Regions from separate parts of the Homo sapiens genome. Here regions 1 and 2 are each linked to region 3. Evidence: fine-mapped QTL for protein levels in blood plasma. Region 3 holds a variant in brackets. A gene starts in each other region. All regions are shown on their forward strands. Region 1 holds the start of BCAM (basal cell adhesion molecule (Lutheran blood group)). Region 2 holds the start of COMP (cartilage oligomeric matrix protein). Region 3 has its middle 4.2 kb from the start of MRC1.

What was found. PIP is the chance, under the fine-mapping model, that this variant and not a neighbour inherited with it causes the effect. The UK Biobank Pharma Proteomics Project read protein levels with antibody pairs (Olink). The fine-mapping took linkage between variants from a reference panel, not from the people measured, so its PIPs are less certain.
Region 1: BCAM starts here. The variant in region 3 is fine-mapped to the plasma level of the BCAM protein (UK Biobank, PIP above 0.99).
Region 2: it holds the start of COMP, and the variant in region 3 is fine-mapped to the plasma level of the COMP protein (UK Biobank, PIP 0.99).

The regions. Positions count from the first base shown.
Region 1 is chr19:44,805,310-44,812,412 of GRCh38, forward strand. It overlaps BCAM (basal cell adhesion molecule (Lutheran blood group)), which reads left to right and starts at 3,794. Exons shown (of 15, transcript NM_005581.5): 1 at 3,794-3,897; 2 at 5,916-6,037; 3 at 6,854-7,082. The coding sequence starts at 3,816. RefSeq lists an enhancer at 6,968-7,103.
Region 2 is chr19:18,790,299-18,797,122 of GRCh38, forward strand. COMP (cartilage oligomeric matrix protein) reads right to left here and starts at 1,007. Exons shown (of 19, transcript NM_000095.3): 1 at 893-1,007; 2 at 552-637; 3 at 264-315. The coding sequence starts at 971. RefSeq lists enhancers at 1-166, 167-747, 748-1,326, 4,882-5,411.
Region 3 is chr10:17,801,778-17,808,499 of GRCh38, forward strand. No RefSeq gene overlaps it. Among named protein-coding and RNA genes, the nearest start is that of MRC1, 4.2 kb to the right of the region's middle. The variant G/C (reference allele first, on the strand shown) is at 4,416.

The DNA.
Region 1 (7,103 bases), not on the chromosome of region 3:
CGAAACTTTCCCCGCACAACCGTCTCTCATTGTACAATCAAAAAATGCATTCACACTGCCACCCAATACAAAAAATTTCAATAGTTCCATTTTCCAGATCTGAGACTGGAATCAGGGAAGAACCATTCCCCTCCAAATATGTCATTCTCCCCATATTCCACAAGCTGTGAGCTAGTTGTAAAGTTAATCGTCACACACTGTGTGAAAAATAATGGGAAAAAAGGTCAAGAAAAGATAAGTCAGCCAGGCACTGTGGCTTCCGCCTGTAATCCCAACATTTTGGGAGGCTGAGGCTGGTGGATCACCTGAGGTTAGGGGTTCGAAACCAGCCTGGCCAACATGGTGAAACCCTGTCTCTACTAAAAACACAAAATTAGCCGGGCATGGTGGCGCATGCCTGTAATCCCAGCTACTTGGGAGGCTGAGGCAGGAGAATTGCTTGAACCTGGGAGGCGGAGGTTGCAGTGAGCCAAGATCACGCCATTGCATTCCAGCCTGGGCAACAAGAGTGAAACTCTGTCTCAAAAACAATGAAAAGGTAAGTCTGGCCAACCGTGGTGGCCCACACCTATAATCCCAGCACTTTGGGAGGCTGAGGTAGGAGGATCGCTTGAGCCCAGAGTTTCAGAAAAGATAAGCCTTGTTAGTTAAAATATGTGAGGATATACACCTGCGGCCGCATGGATGGAATTAGAACTTTTTTTTTTTTTTTTTTTTTTTTTGATACTGAGTCTCGCTCTGTCACCCAGGCTGGGGTGCAATGGCATGATCTCAGCTCACTGCAACCTCCACCTCCTAGGTTCAAGCAATTCTCCTGCCTCAGCCTCCCGAGTAGCTGGGATTACAGGCACCTGCCACAACCCCTGGCTAATTTTTTTATTTTAAGTAGAGAGGGGGTTTCACCATTTTGGCCAGGCTGGTCTCAAACTCCTGACCTCGGGTGATCCACCCACCTCGGCCTCCCAAAGTGCTGGGATTGCAGGCATGGGCCACCATGACTGGCCATTTTTATATTTTTTTGTAGAGACGGGGTTTCGCTATGTTGCCCAGGCTGGTCTCAAACTCCCGGGCTCAAGCAGTCCTCCCGCCTCAGGCTCCTAAATTGCTGGGATTACAGACGTGAGTCCCTGCGGCTGACCTGGACCTCAGCTTTTACCCTAAGTGAGACAGAAGTCATGGGAGGACCCTGGGGCAGAAGAGTGACATGAGTTGATTCACATGTAAAAGGAATCCTTCAGGCTGTTTTGTGAGAATAAATTACAGGGGACAAAGGCAGATGATGTTACAAGACTAGTTTCTGCAAGTCTGCAAGGGTCCACGGCTGCTGTTTTGGTGTTTCTGACTTTTCTCCTTCATACACATGCCATAGAGTTCTCCTCCCTCACCCAGAACCTCAGATGGCTAGGTTCTTCTTTTTTTTTTTTTTTTTTTTGAGACAGAATTTCACTCTTGTTGCCCAGGCAACATCGTGCAGTGGCACGATCTCAGCTCAGTGCAACCTCCACCTCCCAGATTCAAGCGATTCTCCTGCCTTAGCCTCCTGAGTAGCTGAGATTACAGGCATGTGCCACCACGCCCAGCTAATTTTGTATTTTTAGTAGAGATGCGGTTTCACCATGTTGGTCAGGCTGGTCTCGAACTCCTGACCTCAGGTGATCCACCCACCTCGGCCTCCTAAAGTGCTGGGATTACAGGCATGAGCCACAGCGCCCAGCCTCAGCTGGCTGGGTTCTTGAGGGAGGTGGAAGTGGGCGATGGCTGCTGAGAGGGCATGTACCAGGGTCCAGCCCAAACAGAAGGTGCACAGGCTGGGGACAGAAGAGCTAGGGTATGGGTGTCGGTGCTCACAGTGTGTGAGCTTGACAGCACCTGGGACTGTCTTGGAGTGCCGCCGCATTCCCCATGAGTGAGTTTGTATTGTATATCCTGGGATGCTCCAGTCTGGATGGAATCTGCACGTGAGTTTGTGTGCCTTGCAAACAAACCTTCCCTGAGCACCTGCACTGTGTCTGGTCTTGTGCTGGGCGGGGTGCCCAGGGGAGGAGCCCTTAGCTCACCACAGTGATCAAGACATCCCTGGCCCTGCCCTCACAGGCTCACAGTCCACTGAGGGAGACAGACCTATCCCCAGCCAGGGACCCCCAGAGTGTGCCGGGCTCAGGTGGGGGAGCCCAGAGGGGGAACCTGACCCAGCCAGGGAAGGCAGAGGGGACTTCCTGGAGGAGGGGATGGTACAGTTAATCCTAAAAGGTCTTTCCCAATGTAACAGTTGCTCTGTAGGATGGATGCAGTGGCTCATGCCTGTAATCCCAGCACTTTGGAAGGCAGGAGGATCACTTGAGCCCAAGAGTTGGAGACCAGCCTGGGCAACATAGTAATACCCTGTTTCTATTACCAAAAAAATACAAAAATTAGCTGGACATGGTAACACAAGCCTATAGTCCCAGCTACTTGGGAGGCTGAAGTGGAAGGATTGCTTGAGCCCAGGCGGTTGAGGTTTGAATGAGCTATGATTGCGCCCACTGCATTCCCGGCTGGGCAACAGAGCGAGACCCTGTCAAAAACAAAACAAACAAACAAAAAAAACGTTGGTCTCCTGTATGACCAATGGATAAAGTAACCTTGACCAGTCTAATAACTCCCAGGCTGACCTGTAATCCAAGCCTTCTCTGTATGTCTGAGCAGGCAAAGCCCAGCTCCAGGGCTACCTCAACCCCCAGGCTGATCAGAAGCTTGGGTAACCTCTCCCAGTGTGGCCAGCGACCCCCCACCCTCCCACGTTCTGACCACTGTCCTGGGCAACTAGTGACATCTAGTGGGGGATTTTGTCCCAGTCTGACCTGGCCTGTAGGGGCCTTGGGCAGTCGGACCTGTGACCCACGCTTCCTAGCAGTGGCTGGACTCCTCCCCCTTCCCGCAGGTGCCCTGGCCTCTTCCCCTGCCCTCCTCACCTGCTCTGGCCAGTCTGACTCCTCCCTTCCCCACAAGGTTGGGAGGGAATGAAGGAGAGAGCGGGAAGGAGGAAGGGAGGGTGGCATTCCTGGGATTCCCTGGATAGGGGGAAGAGTGGGAGGGCCTTCCATGGGTGAGCAAGCAGAGAGGGCACCCCGTACCCCACCCCCAGCCCCATCATCGAAGCGGCCTAGGAGGACCTGGATTTGAAGACCATTGAAAATAAGAGATTAAACCGGTTGATTCCAGGCTACTGGTCAGACGAGGAAAGCAGCCCAGAGCACTGACCACAGGGGAAAACATCTCCGGGCATACTGGGAGCAGCTGCTGGGGGCCACTGGTCAGGCTGCGGGGGTCACTGGTTGGACTGGGAGAGGCCAGTGCAGGCCACTCGGACGGCACGCTTGGGGCCATTAGTTACACTGGGAGAGGCCATCGCAGGCCACAGGTTGCAGTGGGGTCCTCTGGTTAAAATCGACGATGCCAGCCCAGGCTGCTGGTCACAGTGGGGACGAGTCCCCAAGGCCCCTGGTCAGAATAACGAGGAGAAGGTCCGCGATTGCCTGGTGAGATCCCAGCTCGGGTCACTGGCTACGCTGGTCGATCAGGCCCCCCGCTGCAGGCGCTGGTCAGTAAGCCCGGACAGCTCTAGGCTTGGGGGCGGACGAGCCCCGAGCCTGGCCCCGTGCACTGGGAGGTCCGCTCCGGGCAGTGGGAGGTCCTGGCCCCGCGCCCGGGCATCGGGGGACGAGGGGGGCCTGGAGGGCGGGGCGGGGCGGGGCTGCCGGGGGCGGGGCCTCTGGCTCCCAGCCCCGCAGCGGCCGAGCTGCAGCCCGGGCTCAGTCTCCGCCGCCGCCGTGAACATGGAGCCCCCGGACGCACCGGCCCAGGCGCGCGGGGCCCCGCGGCTGCTGTTGCTCGCAGTCCTGCTGGCGGCGCACCCAGGTATGGCTCGGGCTGAGGGCAAGGTGGGACTGGGGAGAGGCCCCTGGGGACCCCGGGAAAGCGAGGAGAAAGGGCTTTACCCTGACCCCAGGAAGCAAAATGTGGGGACCCCAAGGAGGAGGGATATGGGAGTGTTGGAAGGTACGCCTTCCAGTGAGAGAGATCTGGGGACAGCCAGGCAGGAGAGCTGGGGATACCCAGGCGGTGGATCAGAGACAACCAGAGAAGTCAGCCCCCTTCCCACTCAGCACCCTGGAATCTGGGTCCCACCTGCCTCCTCCCTCAGACCCTGGAATCTGGGCCCCCAGCCCCTCTTTCCTCAGACCCAGGAGTCCAGGCCTCCAGTGGCTAGAATAGCTTCCCCCAGGGCACAGAGGATCAAAACCCCAGGGCTCTCTCCCTCAAAGGTCCTCAAGTTTTGAGAGGTCCAGGGACCCCTTAGAGAAGCGAGGACCATGTGTCCCCACACCAGCGATCCACATGTATTTAGGAGTTTCCAGAGTCCAGTATAAAGAACCCGCCTCCCTCAGGAAAGGGCTGGAGCACCAGCCCCGGGCAGTGACAGTGGAACAAAGTGTTTCCAAGTGACAGGCCCCCTTCCTGGGGCCTCAGCTACATTTACACACCTGCATGAGGATAGAAGGAGAGGAGGCCGGGGGCTGGGGGGTGGGGGTGGGGGTGCTGGGGACAGAGGGACAGAGAGATGAGAGAGATTGGGGAAGAGAGAGGAACTCTCTGCCTCCACTTGTCTGCAGATCAGACCCAGCCTTAGGCACCAGCCTGGACCCCGTCACCCCTCCCTGGGGACAGGCTGGGGCCAGAGGTGAGCGCTTGGGAATCCAGGCCCCTGGCACACTCATGGTCAACAGTGGGTCCCCAGGGGTAGGGCTGGGCCAGATTGAGCAGAGAAGGGAAGGGAGTTTCTAAGAAGCACTGAGAGCTGATGCCAGGATGCCAGCCCAGAGGGTGAGGGAGGGTGGTGGTTTTTCTACAATAACTACTCCACCAGGCCCCAGCCTCCTCTTCCCTCTGATCCCAGGAGTCCAGGTGCCCAGCTTCCCAAGATCCTGGGCCTCAACCTTATCCTTTTGCAAGATGACTCGACTTATCCCGTTTGCTGTTGTATCAAACTGAGGGGGGCCAAGAGGCGGCTGGGGGCTCTGGCTCCAGGCCGGGCAGGTCTCAGCCAGCCTGTCCCTCCCACATTCCTGAAACCTGCCCAGCCCTGTCCCCCCTCACCGCCCCCACACATCCATCCCGCCTAAGCTCCGGGCCCAGCCGCAGCCCACACCCCAGCCCCTCACTCATGGGAGAGCGGAAGAGACCCAGGGACTGAGTGGTGCAGGTGCAGAGAGAGGCAGAGACAGGGACAGAGATGGAGACCCAAGAGGAGAGACACACGCAAAGGTGGAGACCAGGATGGAGAGAAACATTTATCCATCATCACAGAGGTGGCCCTGCCCAGGGTGCTGGAGGCAAATGGCTGAGCCAGGCCTGGCCCTGCCCTGGGGGGTGGCGTGTGCTCTGTTGGGATAAGCAAAGGCTGGTGCAGTATTACCCCAGGAGTGTTCAGCGGAGGCCACAGGGCCCTGTGCAGCCCAGAGGAGGAGCCCTGAGCTCTGCAAGTGCAGGGAGAGATGGATTTGAGACCCAGAGATGCAGGGAGAAGGGATGGAGGGCGAAAGGATCTCAGGGAGGAGGGGCTGGGGCCTAGACTCCTGGGTCTGAGGGAGGAGGGGCTGGGGCCTGGACTCCTGGGTCTGAGGGAGGAGGGGCTGGGGCCTAGACTCCTGGGTCTGAGGGAGGAGGGGCTGGGGCCTAGACTCCTGAGTCTGAGGGAGGAGGGGACAGGGGCCCAGATTCCTGGGTCTGAGGGAGGAGGGGCTGGCACCTGGACTCCTGGGTCTGAGGGAGGAGGGGCTGGGACCTGGACGCTTGTGTCCTGGGGGAGAGGGGACCCTGTCTGGAGGGCTCTTCCTGTTGGTGTGGTGGATGATAGCTCAGTTGCTCTCTTGCAGATGCCCAGGCGGAGGTGCGCTTGTCTGTACCCCCGCTGGTGGAGGTGATGCGAGGAAAGTCTGTCATTCTGGACTGCACCCCTACGGGAACCCACGACCATTATATGCTGGAATGGTTCCTTGTGAGTGCTTGGGGCTGGGGGGCCTGGAGTCAGGGCACAGCAGGGCAGCAAAGGTTCATTCTCTCATCAGTGCCTAAGGCCTGTAGAGATCCACCAAGCCACACTCCTTGTTACAGATGGGGTCACTGAGTCCCACTGAGGGGAAGGGATCTGCAAGGTGCCCCGTGTCTAGGCACAGCCAAGTCTAGAATGACATTGACCTGCTCTGGACTGCGGGCTCTTGAGAGAGAGAACAGAGACAGACATCAAGAAAGCAGAAGCCAGGCACGGTGGCTCACGCCTGTAATCCCAGCACTTTGGGAGGCCGAGGCGGGTGGATCACGAGGTCAAGAGATCAAGACTGTCCTGACCAACATGGTGAAACCCCGTCTCTACTAAAAATACAAAAATTAGCTGGGCGTGATGGCATGTGCCTGTAATCCCAGCTACTCAGGAGGCTGAGGCAGGAGAATCGCTTGAACCTGGGAGGTAGAGGTTGCAGTGAGCCGAGATCGAGCCAATGCTCTCCAGCCAGGCGACAGAGCAAGACTCTATCTCAAAAAAAAAGAGGAAAGAAAATGAGAGACAATCGGGAGAGGGAGAGACCAAGAGGAGAAGGGATGGGACCGGAATGAGATGGAGAAAAGGAGACAGGAAAAATCAAGAACTGATAGGGAATGGGGGCAGGAGAAGGTGGGGAGGGACAGAGGGACCAGGGAGACCCATAACAAGAGGAAAAGAGGCAGAGCCAGGAGCTGCAGAGAGAAAGGACCCAGAGAGAGAGAGACTGAGGAGCGCTGGGACACCCGGAGCTGAGAGCCTGCCCCGCGCCCACAGACCGACCGCTCGGGAGCTCGCCCCCGCCTAGCCTCGGCTGAGATGCAGGGCTCTGAGCTCCAGGTCACAATGCACGACACCCGGGGCCGCAGTCCCCCATACCAGCTGGACTCCCAGGGGCGCCTGGTGCTGGCTGAGGCCCAGGTGGGCGACGAGCGAGACTACGTGTGCGTGGTGAGGGCAGGGGCGGCAGGCACTGCTGAGGCCACTGCGCGGCTCAACGTGTTTGGTAAGTGTCCTCGGGCATCCC
Region 2 (6,824 bases), not on the chromosome of region 3:
CTCCCCGGTCTCTTCTCTGAGTCTCTGTCCCGCTTTTCTGCCCCGTGGCGTCTCTCACTTCCCCAAAACTCTCTCACCGCTTCTGTCTCTTTTTGTCTCTGTTTCTACACACCCCATCCCATTCCCGTTCGTCCGTCCACCTCTCCGTCAGCCTCCATCTCCTTCCGTCTCTTTTCCTCCCCAGCTTTCCCTGGCTCTCTGTCTCTGTCTCTGTGTCTCTGTCTCCCGTCTCTTCTCTCTCCCGACCGCCCCGCCGCGCTCACCGCACGCGTCACACTCCATCACCGTGTTTTTCAGGAACGTGATCTCCCTGACCTGCAGGGGTGGGATGGAATCAGCGGGGTCCCAACCTCTCCTCATCCCTCGGGTCTCCCCTCTCTCTACCCCGGGGTCCCTTTCTACAGCCTCTTTTCGCCAAGGACTCCCTACCCGCCGACCCCCTTCCCTCCCCATCTCCTCTCCACCTTCTCGGGTACTTCCTCTCTCCTCGCTGGGAACTGAGACCCCCTTCCGTTCCCTGGCACTCCCTGCCCCGCACCCGGGCCCCGCACCTGCTGCCGCAGCAGCTCCCGCACGTCCTGCAGCGCCGCGTTGGTTTCCTGCAGTTCCCGAAGCATCTGCGGGCCCAGGTCTGAGCCTGCGGCGGCAGGGGACCTGGTGAGGCGTCATGGGGCCGGGGAATCCCACCACCAACTCCCACCGTTGCAGCGAACCCGGACCTCCGAGGCCCCACTGCGCTCCTCTAGTCTCGGTCCCGCCACCTGCTTTCTGCGCCCGGCACGTCCCCTACGAACAGTCCGTGAGCCCCAAACAGCCTGGATCCCGGGCCTCTCACGGGTCCTACAGTCCGTTGTGGGGCCGTGGGCACGGCGCGGGTGCTAACGCGGCTTACCCAACGGGCTCTGGCCCTGTCCGGACGCGCCGAGGGCAGCCAGGGTGAGCAGAAGAACGCAGGCGGTGTCGGGGACCATGGCGGTGGCGGGGAGCTGGGTGGCTGCTCGCTTTCTACCGCCCACGAGGCCCGCGGGGCCTATTTATCCCCAAGGCACGGCCGGCCCCAGGGACGGCCCACCACAGCCCTGCCCAACGTCCAGCCTCAAGGTAAACAGATGGCGCTGGCCCCTGCGTTCAAGTCCCCGCCCGGAATGCCCCGCGAAGTCGCCCGCGGCTGAATCCGACATGGTGGGGAAACTGAGTCCCGGGGTCTGTGGAGAGAGCTGGTGGGGCAGGGAGTCAGGGGGTACTGCCCCCACTTTCATTCACTGTGTGTGTGCGTCTGTGTGTGTGTGTGTGTGTGTGTGTGACGGGGTGTGGCTGTATCGCATCCTCTTGCTTCAGTCTCCCATGTAGCTGGGACTACAAGCCCGCACCACCAAGTCCAGCTAATTTATTTTTATTTTTATTTTTATTTTTAGAGACCGGGTCTGGCTATGTCCTGCAGGCTAGTAGTCTCAAACTCCCGGCCTCAAGCGATACTCCCCACATAACTGGGATTACAGGATCCAGCCATAGCATTCAGCTCATTGATTGATTGATTGATTGAGTGCTTGCTGTATGCCAAACCTGAGTTCCAGTTCCAAACAAGGCAGGCTCCATGGCCACGCTCTCAGCTCACACTTCGGGAAACAGAGTCACCAGCGTCTGAAAAAATAGGTCCACCCACTATGGATCAGACTGACTGGCCCTCCACTCCTCCTGAAGTGCTTCAAAACTGGGTAAGTTGCTGGGTGCGGTGGCTCACACCTGTAATCCCAGCACTTTGGGAAGCCAAGGCGGGCAGATCACCTGAGGTCAGGAGTTTGAGACCAGCCTGGCTAACATGGTGAAACCCCATCTCTACTAAAAGTACAAAAATTACCCAGGCGTAATTCCTCCCTTGCACAATGGAGGTAATAAGTTAATAATTATTAATTAATGATTAATAGTAATGATGATTATGATGATGAATGGAAAATAGGGGAGGGGCAGTTGAGACCTGGGACTCTCAATTTTCCTGCCTCTGTCCAAGGAGGCCGCTTCTGGCCCCAACGCTGGAGGGCTGCAAATGACTCCCCCCAACCCAACTCATTGCTGGTGTTCCCTCCCCTCCCCATGGTCCCTCGGCTGGTGGAGGAGGGGACAGCGTTCAGGATCTTGCCCCAACCCCTGTCCAAGGGGACAGGCCCACTTGGTTTTCCAATCTGCGCAATGGGGTGTGAGGCCCCCATCTGGAGGGGAGCAAGTTAAAGGGCTCTAGCAAGGGGAGGTCCGGGGCTTCTGTTTGTCCAGGCTGTGCCATACCTTCCAAACTGTGCTCCAGCTGCTGTGGGAACAGCCTGTAATAAAAATAAAAGTTACCGCTAACTGGCCAGCCACACTCTGGAGTTACAAAACCCCTTAACCTCCTGCAATCAGTTAACACTCTCCACTCCCACCTTCCAGTACTCACAGCGTCTATTCTATAGACAGAGAAACTGAGGCCCAGAGAGAAAAAGTGACTGGCCTAAGGCCACTGCCCGAGGGCAGGGGTGAATCTAGACTCAGAGCCAGATATGTTTTCTGGGGAGCCTACAGAGAAGTCACCGAGGGCTTCCTGGAGGAGGTAGCAAGGAGACAGACATAAAAGAAAAGGAGGACTTGGATCAGCAGAGGGAAAAGGTGAGGGCAGTTTTGGTGGAGGGAAGCATGTGAAGCTTGGAGGTGGGGACATTTCTAGACACAATAATTATTTCACAAACATCAAGGACTGTTGTGTGTCATGTCTCCTGTGCTGGGTGATGGGCACACAGGGTGAAGAAGCCAGACCCAGTCTCTCCTTCAAATGGGGAGCCCAGTGGGCTCATGGCTGTGACGGGACACACAGACAATGGTAGGAGTCCCCAGGAAATTGATCTGTTTGAAAGGGGATGGGTCAGGGCGGGCTTCTGGAGGAGGAGGGACCACCAAGCTGAGGACCGGATGATGAGGAGGACACAGCCAGGCAGAGGTAGCAGAAAGTCATTCCAGGTAGAGGAAACAGCATAGGCAAAGGCCCTGAGGCAGGAACCAACCTGGCCCGTTGGATGGACTGACCTCAAGGTGACAAGCTCTTGGGGCTCAGTGAGAAGCAGGAGATGAGGCTGTGTGTGAAAGGGCAGTGCTGGTGGTGTGGGGCTCCAGTGGTCTCCCGAGGGTAATGGGGAGCCACAGAGAGTGCGTGAAGAGAGACAGGCCTATAAGTGGAGTGTTGGTGGAAGCAGCTGGTCCCAGCCAGAGCATTTCCAATGAAGCCTGTCCTCAATAGTGCCTGCCCTGCCTGCTGCCTACATTGGGGCCATGAGCTCACCTCCTGTTTTCCTTGGCCTTCAGCACACCTGGGGGCCGCTCCTGGCAGCACTGGAATTCTCGGGAAAACCACAGCTCCAGTGGGGCCTGGGGGCTGGCATATGCTGCACACAGCTAGGACAGGAGCACATGGAAGCCAGGCCCCTGCCACAGGCTGGTCACAGTGCTGGGGCTTGGACACACGTGGCCTTATCCATGGCTGGGCCACGGGGAGTTGCAGGGAAGGGCATTCCAGGCGGAGGGAACTACAAAGGTGGAGTTCCTGAGGGTGTCCCAAGATCGGACAACAGAGGCCCGGAAAGGGGATGTCTGGGGTCACACTCCTGCCTCCTGGATCTCGCCAGCCCTGAAATCCCCCTTCTAGGCAGCAGTCCCCTCCTCCTGTGCACACCACACTTGCCTCAGATTACAGAATAACTCACTGTAGGTGTCATTCTGGGCCTTTGTACCTGCTGTTCCCCCCACCTCGTACAAACTCCTCCATCCTTCAAGGTCCAGCTATAATGTCCCCTCCTCCAGGAAGCCTTCCCTGCTGATATTCTCCAGATAACCTTCCAGCCTAGCCATGATCCTCGGGACTGTGAGTGTCTGTGGTTTGCTCTGTCCCTCCGAGCCTGAGGGGCTCCCACCCAGGGGCCTGGACTGGTGTAGAAAGGTTAGGCTGGAGGGCTTGGTGAGCCGGGACAGCATCCCTATGATTCGTGTTCATTACTATTTTTTTTTTTTTTTTTTGAGATGGAGTCTCACTTTTGTCGCCCAGCTGGAGTGCGATGGTGCAATCTCGGCTCACTGCAACCTCTGCCTCCTGAGTTCAAGTGATTCCCCTGCTTCAGCCTCCTGAGTAGCTGGGATTACTGGCACCTGCCACCACGCCCAGCTAATTTTTTTATATTTTTAGTAGAGACGGGGTTTCACCATGTTGGCCAGGTTGGTCTCGAACTTCTGACCTCAGGTGATCCACCTGCCTCAGCCTCCCAAAGTGCTGGGATTACAGGCGTGAGCCACCGCGCCTGGCCATTACTACTTTTTATAATTAATGTAATGTCATTACTATTTTTTTTTTTTTTTAAAATAGAGATGGGGGTCTTATTATGTTGCCCAGGCTAGTCTCGAACTCCTGGGCTCAACAGATCCTCCTTCCTCGGCCTCTCAAAACCCTGGGATTTCAGCCACTGCACCCAGCCAACATTATCATATGAATCCTAGTAACCCCTGCCACCTCTGTACTTGATATGGCAGGGAAGGGGGCCACACAGCCTGGGTTCAAATATTGGTGAGCATGGCCTTACTGTGTGACCTAGGACAAGTCACTTAACCTCTCTGTGCTTCAGTTTTCTCACCCATAAAATGAGGATGATCACTGTTGAGAGGATTGAATGAGCTGACCCATGGAAATCCTTCAGCCCAGCGCCCAGCTCCAGCGCTACTAGCGTGCTTATTCCATATGAAATTTATACACCGTGGGCCAGTGTGGTGGCTCACACCTATAATCCCAGCACTTTGGGAGGCCACAGCAGGTGGATCACCTGAGGCCAGGAGTTCGAGACCAGTGTGGCCAACGTGAAACTCCATCTCTACTCAAAATACAAAAATTAGCTGGACGTGGTGGCGCGTGCCTGTAATCCCAGCTAATCGGGAGGCTGAGGCAGGAGAATCACTTGAACCGGGGAGGCAGAGGTTGCAGTGAGCCGAGATCACATCACTGCACTCCAGCCTGGGCGACCGAGTGAGACCTTGTCTCAAAAAAACAAAACAAAACAAAAAAACTTATACCCTGTGCCTGTCGCTTATACCTCAGATCGTTCTTATTTCTATCTTACTCAGAGAGGAGAAGAGACAGTCTGAGGTCACACAGCCAGAATTAGAACTGAGGCATGCAAGACCCTCAAGCCCTTCATACCCGCCCTCTCTGTCCTTGCCACAGAAACAGAATCCAGCATTTCGCTGGCCCGAGCCCCTCATTAACTGGGATGTCTTCTCGGCCCAGGACCTCCTGGCCAGAGCATCTGGCCGGCGCCCCAGCCAGCCCCACACCAGGCCCCGTGGTTCCAGGAGCCCGGCCAGGCTGGGGAAGAGGGACGGGTGCCTGCATGATGGGGCCCCGGGGCCCTTCCTGGCAGACGTCTGCTCAGCCAGGAGACGTGTGGGCGCCCCGGCTCCCTGCCTCCCGCCCCCACCGTTGCCTGCCTTTGTGAATGCAGAAGGAAAGTATGTTGTGAAGGCAGCCGCCCTGCCCTGGGCGGGCCGGGCTGTAGGCCCCCAGTCTGCGGAATTCATCAGGGCGGCAGGGGAGGGCAGCTTGGCGACCTCTGCATCCTCAGCCTGCCTTGAACTGGGAGAGACGTACTGGAGGCATCTCTCTAGAAGGAACAAAAGGCAGGGGTGGGATGGGGGGCTCTGAGCTTTGAAGTCCAGGAGACGCCCCCCGACTGGCCGTGTGACCTTTGGCAGGTGCCACCTCCTCTCCCAGTCTCCTTTTTTTTTTTTTTTTTTTTGAAACAGGGTCTTGCTCTGTTGCCTGGCCTGAAGTACAGTGACAATCATAGCTCACTCATTGCAGCCTCCAACTTCTGGGCTCAAGTGATCCTCCCACCTCAGCCTCCCAAAGTGCTGGGATCACAGATGTGCACCACTGCACCCAGCCCCATTCTCCTTTTACTCAGTCCCTACCCCCATTGCATCCCAGGCTCTACTGGATGGCGATAAAGGAAGAAGACAACAATAAATACAGTGGCTACAGTTTTCTTGAGCAAGTGCCAAATGCTTGAAACCTTACCACTCAGCCTTTGTGGGTTTTCTCTTTCTGTCATCCCTTAAGTCCCAGAAGGCAGGAATTTGTCATCATGGGAGACAGTGGGGCACAGTGATGAAGGTCTCAGTCTCTGGCATCAGAGCCTGAGTTTCATATCCCAGCTCTGCTGTGGTACATGAGGCAAGTTGCTTAACCTCTCTGTGCCTCAGTTTCTTCTTTTTTCCTTTATTTCTTCTTCTTTTTTTTGCCACCTTCGAAAGTTTCTTATAATGTAAAATTTTACTTCTCAGGTTACTATACTGAAGAGTTGCTTCAGGAGAGAAAGAATTTCACCAGAGGCCGGGCGTGGTGGCTCACGTCTGTAATCCCAGCACTTTGGGAGGCCAAGGAGGGCGGATGACCTGAGGTCAGGAGTTCAAGACCAGCCTGGCCAACATGGTGAAACCCTGTCTGTACAAAAGTACAAAAATTAGCCGGGCATGATGGCAGGTGTCTGTAATCCCAGCTACTTACTTAGGAGGCTGAGGCGGGAGAATTGCTTGAACTCAGGAGGCGGAGGTTGCAGTGACCCGAGACTGCACCATTGCACTCCAGCCTGGGCGACAGAGTAAGACTCTGTGTCAAAAAAAAAAAAAAAAAAAAAAAAAAAAAAAAAATTCACTAGGAACAGATAGGAATTTCACAATATTCAATTGATACTGGTTTCTTTCTTTTTTCTCTTTTCCTTCCTTCCTTCCTTCCCTTCCTCCTTCCTCCCTCCCCCTCTCCC
Region 3 (6,722 bases):
TATTTACAAGAGCTTTTACATATATTACCATATCCTGAAGATTATTTTTTGGAAATTTCATTAATTTGTCATTTGACAAATTTGAGTGCCTGTTATAGACTAGGTATGGTTTTATATGAATTTGAGGATAATATTTACTAAAGTAACACTTGCTGTGAAAGTGTGCATTTATATATACACACATCTTAATTTCCCAAGATATGCCTATTTTTAATAAGATTATTTTTTATTTTAACTTGTAATTATTCTTATATTGAAATGGAAATAATGGATTTTTAAGGAATGCCTTCTTTCTCTACAAAACTTTTTTCTTTTAAATATTTAACTCAGATACCTTAGAGGTGTTCAGAATATTTGAGTGAATAAATAGAAAATTTGCGTTTCAAATTGCTAAAAATTATACATAATCTTACATAGTAAGTGTTGTTCTGAAGAACCAGCCCAACATTGTTGTGTCTTGGTTTCCATCTGTAAAGTATAGGTCACTTTCAGATTATAAACACATGTTTAATCTTATTCTTAAAATTTGTTTCTGCCGGGCGCAGTGGCTCACGCCAGCACTTTGAGAGGCCGAGGCGGGTGGATCACGAGGTCAGTAGATCGAGACCATCCTGCATGCTGTCTAACACGGTGAAATCCCATCTCTACTAAAAATACAAAAAATTAGCCAGGCGTAGTGGCGGGTGCCTGTAGTCCCAGTTACTGGGGAGGCTGAGGCTGGAGAATGACGTGAACCCAGGAGGCGGAGCTTGTAGTGAGCTGAGACTGCGCCACTGCCCTCCAGCCTGAGTGACAGAGCGACACTCCATCTCAAAAAAAAAAAATTTGTTTCAAAAATTAAATGGGTCAAATAGCCTTTTAATTAAATTACTTTGTAAAATTTAGTATATTAAAACGATGTGTGCCAAGACAAAACCAAATGAAACAAAGTATTGGTTATAGAAATACAAAATTCAAAGGTCCTTCAAATACTATGAATCTACACACTGTTGATTACAATAAGTCTAAATATGTTATCTGAAGACAGTTACAATTAAAGCCTAATTTTATGTAAGTAATTGAATGCAAAGAAATTGGATTGCTATGATATAGTAGTTTTCTATTAAACTGTAAATGCATTGTTGATGTTTTGCTATGGTTTTGGTAAGGACTGAAAAATATGAGGTATAAGAACATCTAAATTTTTAAATTTTTACTCAAAAATATCTTTTTTTTCTTTTGGCTGGTAGGAATTATGTTGATAAGAGTTGAATAAATTTGTTCATTAAAAGATAGGCTTACTGAAAACACCATTTCTGAAGGGCTTACCAGTTTTATCTGTGAGAAATGATGTAACAGGTTATGAAAAATTTTGCCCAGCTATTTTTCTTGGAACTATTTCAGAGCAAAGCAGACACTAAGTTCATCATACGTGAAACTGAGTGGGTAGGAGGTGGCTGGTGTTTGAGAAAGTCTAGGAGGAAATGACACAGTTGATTGTCTTGCCAATAAAAAAATGAGAATTTCCTTTATATTTTAGCTTGAAGAAAGGACTAGTTAAAAATAACCACCATCATCAATAGCTAACCAAAATTCAGAACCAGAACTTAGTAGAAGGGTGTAGACAGGATGGCATGAGTTGGATTTTTAAAAAAGTTTGGTAAAGGATACATAACACAATTATTATTGTAGTCATTTCAACTGTACAATTCAATGGCTCTAAACATATTCACCATGTTGTTTAACTATCACCACTCTGTATTTCCAGAACTTTTCATCATCCAACATCCAATGGGCTCTGTGCCCATTAAACAATAACTCTCCATTCTCCTCCATCCTCCACCTCCCACCCCTTAGTAAACTCTCTTCTTCCTATGTCTCTGAATTTACCTATTCTATATACCTCACATAAGTGGAATCACATAATATTTGTCCGTTTATGTTTGGCTTATTTCACTTAGCAAAATGTTGAAAGGTTGTACATATAGCAGGTATCAGGATTCCTTTTTACGGCTCTATAATATCCCACTGTATGTTCATACCACATTTGTTTATCTGCTAACAGACACCTGAGTTGCTTCTACTTTTTGGCTATCATAAGTAAAACTTCTTTGAACATTGTTGTACAAATATGTGTTTGAGTCCCTAATTTCAGTTCTTCTGGGTATATACCTAGAAGTAGAATTGCTGGATCGTATGATAATTATAGTGTAACTTTGTGAGGCATTGCCAAGCTGTTTTCCGCAGTGGCTACACCATTTTACATTCCCGCCAGCAATGCCCGAGGGTTCCAATTTCTCATATTCTCACCATCACTTGTTATTTTCTGTTTTTTTAAAGTAATAATTCTTTTGGGTGTGAAATTCTATTTCATTGTAGTTTTGATTTACATTTCCCTAATGACTAATGATGTTGAGCATCTTTACATGTGCTTAGCTTATTGGCCACTTGTATATCTTCTTTGGAGAATTATCTGTTCAGGTCCACCGACCATTTTGTATTTGGTTTTGTTGTGGTTATTGAGTTGTAGTTGTTAATATATTCTGGATATTCATCCCTTAATCAGATATGTGATTTACAGATATTTTCTATTTTGTGCTGTCTTTTCACTTTCTAGATAGTGTACTTTGGTGGACACAGTTTTTAACTGTGATAAAGGCCTTTTTATCTACTTTTTTATTGCTTGTGTTTTTGGTATCCAATCCAAGAAATCATTGTCAAATCCAATGTTGTGAAGATTTTATTTCCTGACGTTTTCTTCTAAGAGTTTTATAGTTTTTAGCTCTTATGTTTAGGCATTTGATCCACTTTGGGTTAATTTTTGTATTTAATGTAAGGTAAGAGTCCAATTTCATTCTCTTTCCTGTGGATGGCCAGTTTTCCCAGCACAAATGCTGTTCTTTCCTCATTGAATGCTTTTGGCACCTTGTTGGAAATCAACTGCCCACATAGGTTTATTTCTGGCCTCTCTATTGTATTCCATTGGCCTATATGGCTATCCTTATGCCTGTACCACACTGTTTAGATTACTGTCATTTTGTAGTATGATTTGAAATCAGGAAGTGTGAATCGTTCAACTTCATTCTTTTTCAAAATTGTTTTGGCTGTGCAGACTCCCATGAAATTCCATATGAACTTTAGGATGGGGTTTTTCATTTCTGCAAAAAAAAAAAATCATTGGGATTTTGATAGGGATTGCATGAATCTATAGATTATATTGGATAATATTGACATCTTAACAATATCAAGTCTTCCATTTCATGAACACAGGGTATCTTTTCATTTATTTAGGTCTTTTTCTTTCAGCAACCATTTGTAGTTTTCAGTGGACAAGTCTTTTGTCTACGTAGTTAAATTTATTCCTAAGTATTTTGTTCTTTTTGATTCTATTGCAAATGGAATTTTCTTAATTTTATTTTCAGATTGTTCATTACAAGTGTATCAAAATTCAACTGATTTTTGTGTTTTGATTTTGTGTCCTGCAACTTTGTTAAATTTGTTAGTGCTACAGTTTGTGTGTGTGGTGTGTATGTGTGTGTGTGTGGCGTGTGTATGTATGTGTGTGTGGTGTGTGTGTGTGGTGTGTATGTGTCTATTGTGTATGTGTATGTGGTATTTGTGTGTGGTGTGTGTGTGTGTGTGTGTGTGTAAGCTTTAGGACTTCCTACATTTAAAATCAGGCCATCTGTGTACAGAGATAATTTCACTTCTTCCTTTTTAATTTGGATGCTTTTATTTATTTTTTTCTTTCCTACATGCTCTTATTAGAACTTCCAGTACTAAGTTGAAGAGAAGTGATGAAAGCAAATAAAAGCACCAATCAGAACACACAGTCCTGACATTTGGAGGGCTAAATCCTTGTTGCCCGGCCTGGCCTCACCTAGCTGCACTGGGCGTGTGGGCTGCTTCCCCCTTCACAGCTGCCTGACACAGCCATAACCACAGGGAGAAGCTGAAATTCGCTGAAATGTACCAGCCTCTTTATCAAGCTCTCCCTTGGATGCTCCAAGTTTCTGACTAGACTAGTTCCCAAATACAGATGGTCCTTGACTTAGGATTGTTAGACATAATGATTTACCCACTTTATGATGATGTGAAATAGAAATGGTGCATTCAGTAGAAAATGTATTTCGAATACCCATACACCCATTCTGCTTCTCACTTTTAGTACCATATCCAATAAATTACGAGATACTCAACACTGTATTATAAAATAGGTTTTGTTAGATGATTTTGAAATAGAAGAGTTCCCTTATGACCCTCGCAGGGGGTGCGACAGGAATGAGGCTTGCTCCTTTGGTGCCCTGCTGCTCAAACCCCTAGGGGGGAGCATGCAGCATGCAGATGGGCAGGTGCAGAGGCTGTGGGGAGTGCTTTTGGGCTCCACCCCACGGCAGCATCTAGGACTCCTGAAGCCCAAGTGGGCGTGTGTTACA[G/C]TGTGCTCTTTCAGCTATACCATCTGCAGACAGCTTGTGTTAGTCAGCTCAATAGACCCTCTGCCTTATCACAAGGACAGGGAGGCAGTGTGACAGCCTGAGTTCTTGCCCAGTGTACTGGAAGAATCAGATCACATGTGGGCTGGAGGGTTGAGTGCAAGGTTTTATTGAGTGGTGTAGGTGGCTCTCAGCGAGATGGATGGGGAACTGGAAGTGGGGAGTGGAGTGGGAAGGTGGTCTTCCCCTGGAGCCAGGCTGCCTAACCCCCCAGACTATTCTCCAACCACTGCTGGCCAAACTCCCCTTGGTGTCCAGATGTCCTTCTTCTCTCTTTCTCTGCTGCGCCACCCCACTGCTCTCCACTGCTCTATTCCTTCACTCTTCTCAATGTTTAGCGCTTGTGTCTATGCCCATTAAGGTCTCAGGTTTTTATGGGCACAGGATGCGGGGTGTGGTGAATCATAGTGGTCTTGGAAATGTAACATTTGCGCATGAAAACAGGAGTGCCTGTTCCCACTTAGGTCCGTGGGCACAGGTCCGAGGGTGGAGCCCTCGCCAGGGATCCTGCCCTTCTCTACCTAGCACTTCTCTGCCTCCTGTCCCTATCAATTTTGCCCAGTTGGAAGCTAATGTAAGTGTTCTCAACACGTTTAAGGTAGGCTACGCTGAGCCGTGATGTTTGGTAGGTCAGGTGTATTAAGTGCATTTTTGACTTAGCATATTTCAACTCACATTGGGTTTAACAGGGCCTAATTTGATCATGAGTAGAGGAGCACCTGCAGTTACTTCAGTCAGTTCCTGTCCATTTGATGGCTGCTTAGATGGAGGGATGAATTCCTGGAGTTTCCCACACCACCATCTTCTGTGACATCCCTTCCCCAAGATTTGGATTTATTTTTTGCCCCAGTGGCCTCTTGTAGCCTGATAAATCTTTGTTTCAACGAGGTCAAGGTCATGGGGTAAATTCTTTGTGGGGTGGTTGGCTGCATTTTGTTTAAACTTCACAGATTTTAGTACTGATCCTAATTTTTAATTTTACTAATGTGATATACACACTTATGTAATTAAAAAACAAACCCTGGGCCAGGTATGGTGGCACACGTCTGTAATCCCAGCACTTTCAGAGGCCAAGGCGGGCGGATCACTTGAGGTCAGGGGTTTGAGACCAGCCTGGCCAACATGGTGAAACCCCGTCTATACTAAAAATGCAAAAAATAGCTGGGCATCATGGCACGCGCCTGTAATCCCAGCCACTTGGGAGGCTGAGGTAGGAGAATCGCTTGAACCCGGGAGGTGGAGGTTGCAGTGAGCCCAGATTGCACCACTGCACTCCAGCCTGGGCGACAGAGCAAGACTCTGTCTCAAAGAAACAAACCAACCCTGAATGTGATTATATACATAATTCAATTAAATGTATTTGCTTCTGAAATATATATAAATGTAAATTAGGCAGTCACTTTTGTATATGATTTATTTATATTTGAAAGCCACAAATGACCCATTTAAACTATTATTTTCATAAGCCAGTGAAACAATGTCTGAGAAACATTTTTGTTTTGTCTGTTCTGTTCTATAACCATCATTTTTTTTTTCAGTCATGTACAGCCTTAGTGACAAAGAAACTTTGGTCCTCTGTCCTACATTTTCACTATCTTTTTCCCTCCGGTCAGGATAATCTCAAATTTACATGTTAAAAACAATCAGTAAGAGAACTACATCACATTTCTAATAGGATGGAAACTTTTCAACTTTATCACAAAGACAACGAATGTGGAGGCTTTCCGTTTGAAGATAAAACTATTCATTTAAAAAATTTTAAAAATTACAATGTTTCCAGTAGCTTCTTTTTGAATTACTAACATATTCCACACTCTAGTAACGGTTTGGCCAGCTAATCGTTAGTTTCTGCTTTAAAATGTTCTAAATTCCTGTTCTACTTTTGAAAAATGACAACATAAATGTTTGGAGGGTTATTTTCTGCTTAATGAAAGATCTAGAAACATATTTTATTCTAAGAAAGAATTCCACTTGCCTTTAAATAAAGATATACCTTTTGACCAAACAATCAGATTTTCTTTTTCTTTTTTTTCTTTTCTTTTTTTTTTTTGAGATGGAGTTTCGCGTCTGTCGCCCAGGCTGGAGTGTAGTGGTGCGATCCTGACTCACTGTAACTTCCACTTCCCAGGTTCAAACGATTCTGTTGCCTCAGCCTCCTGAGTAGCTGGGCTTACAGGTGTGCATGATCACACCCGGCTAACTTTTGTATTTTTAGTAGAGACGGGTTTTTGCCATGTTGACCAGGCTGGT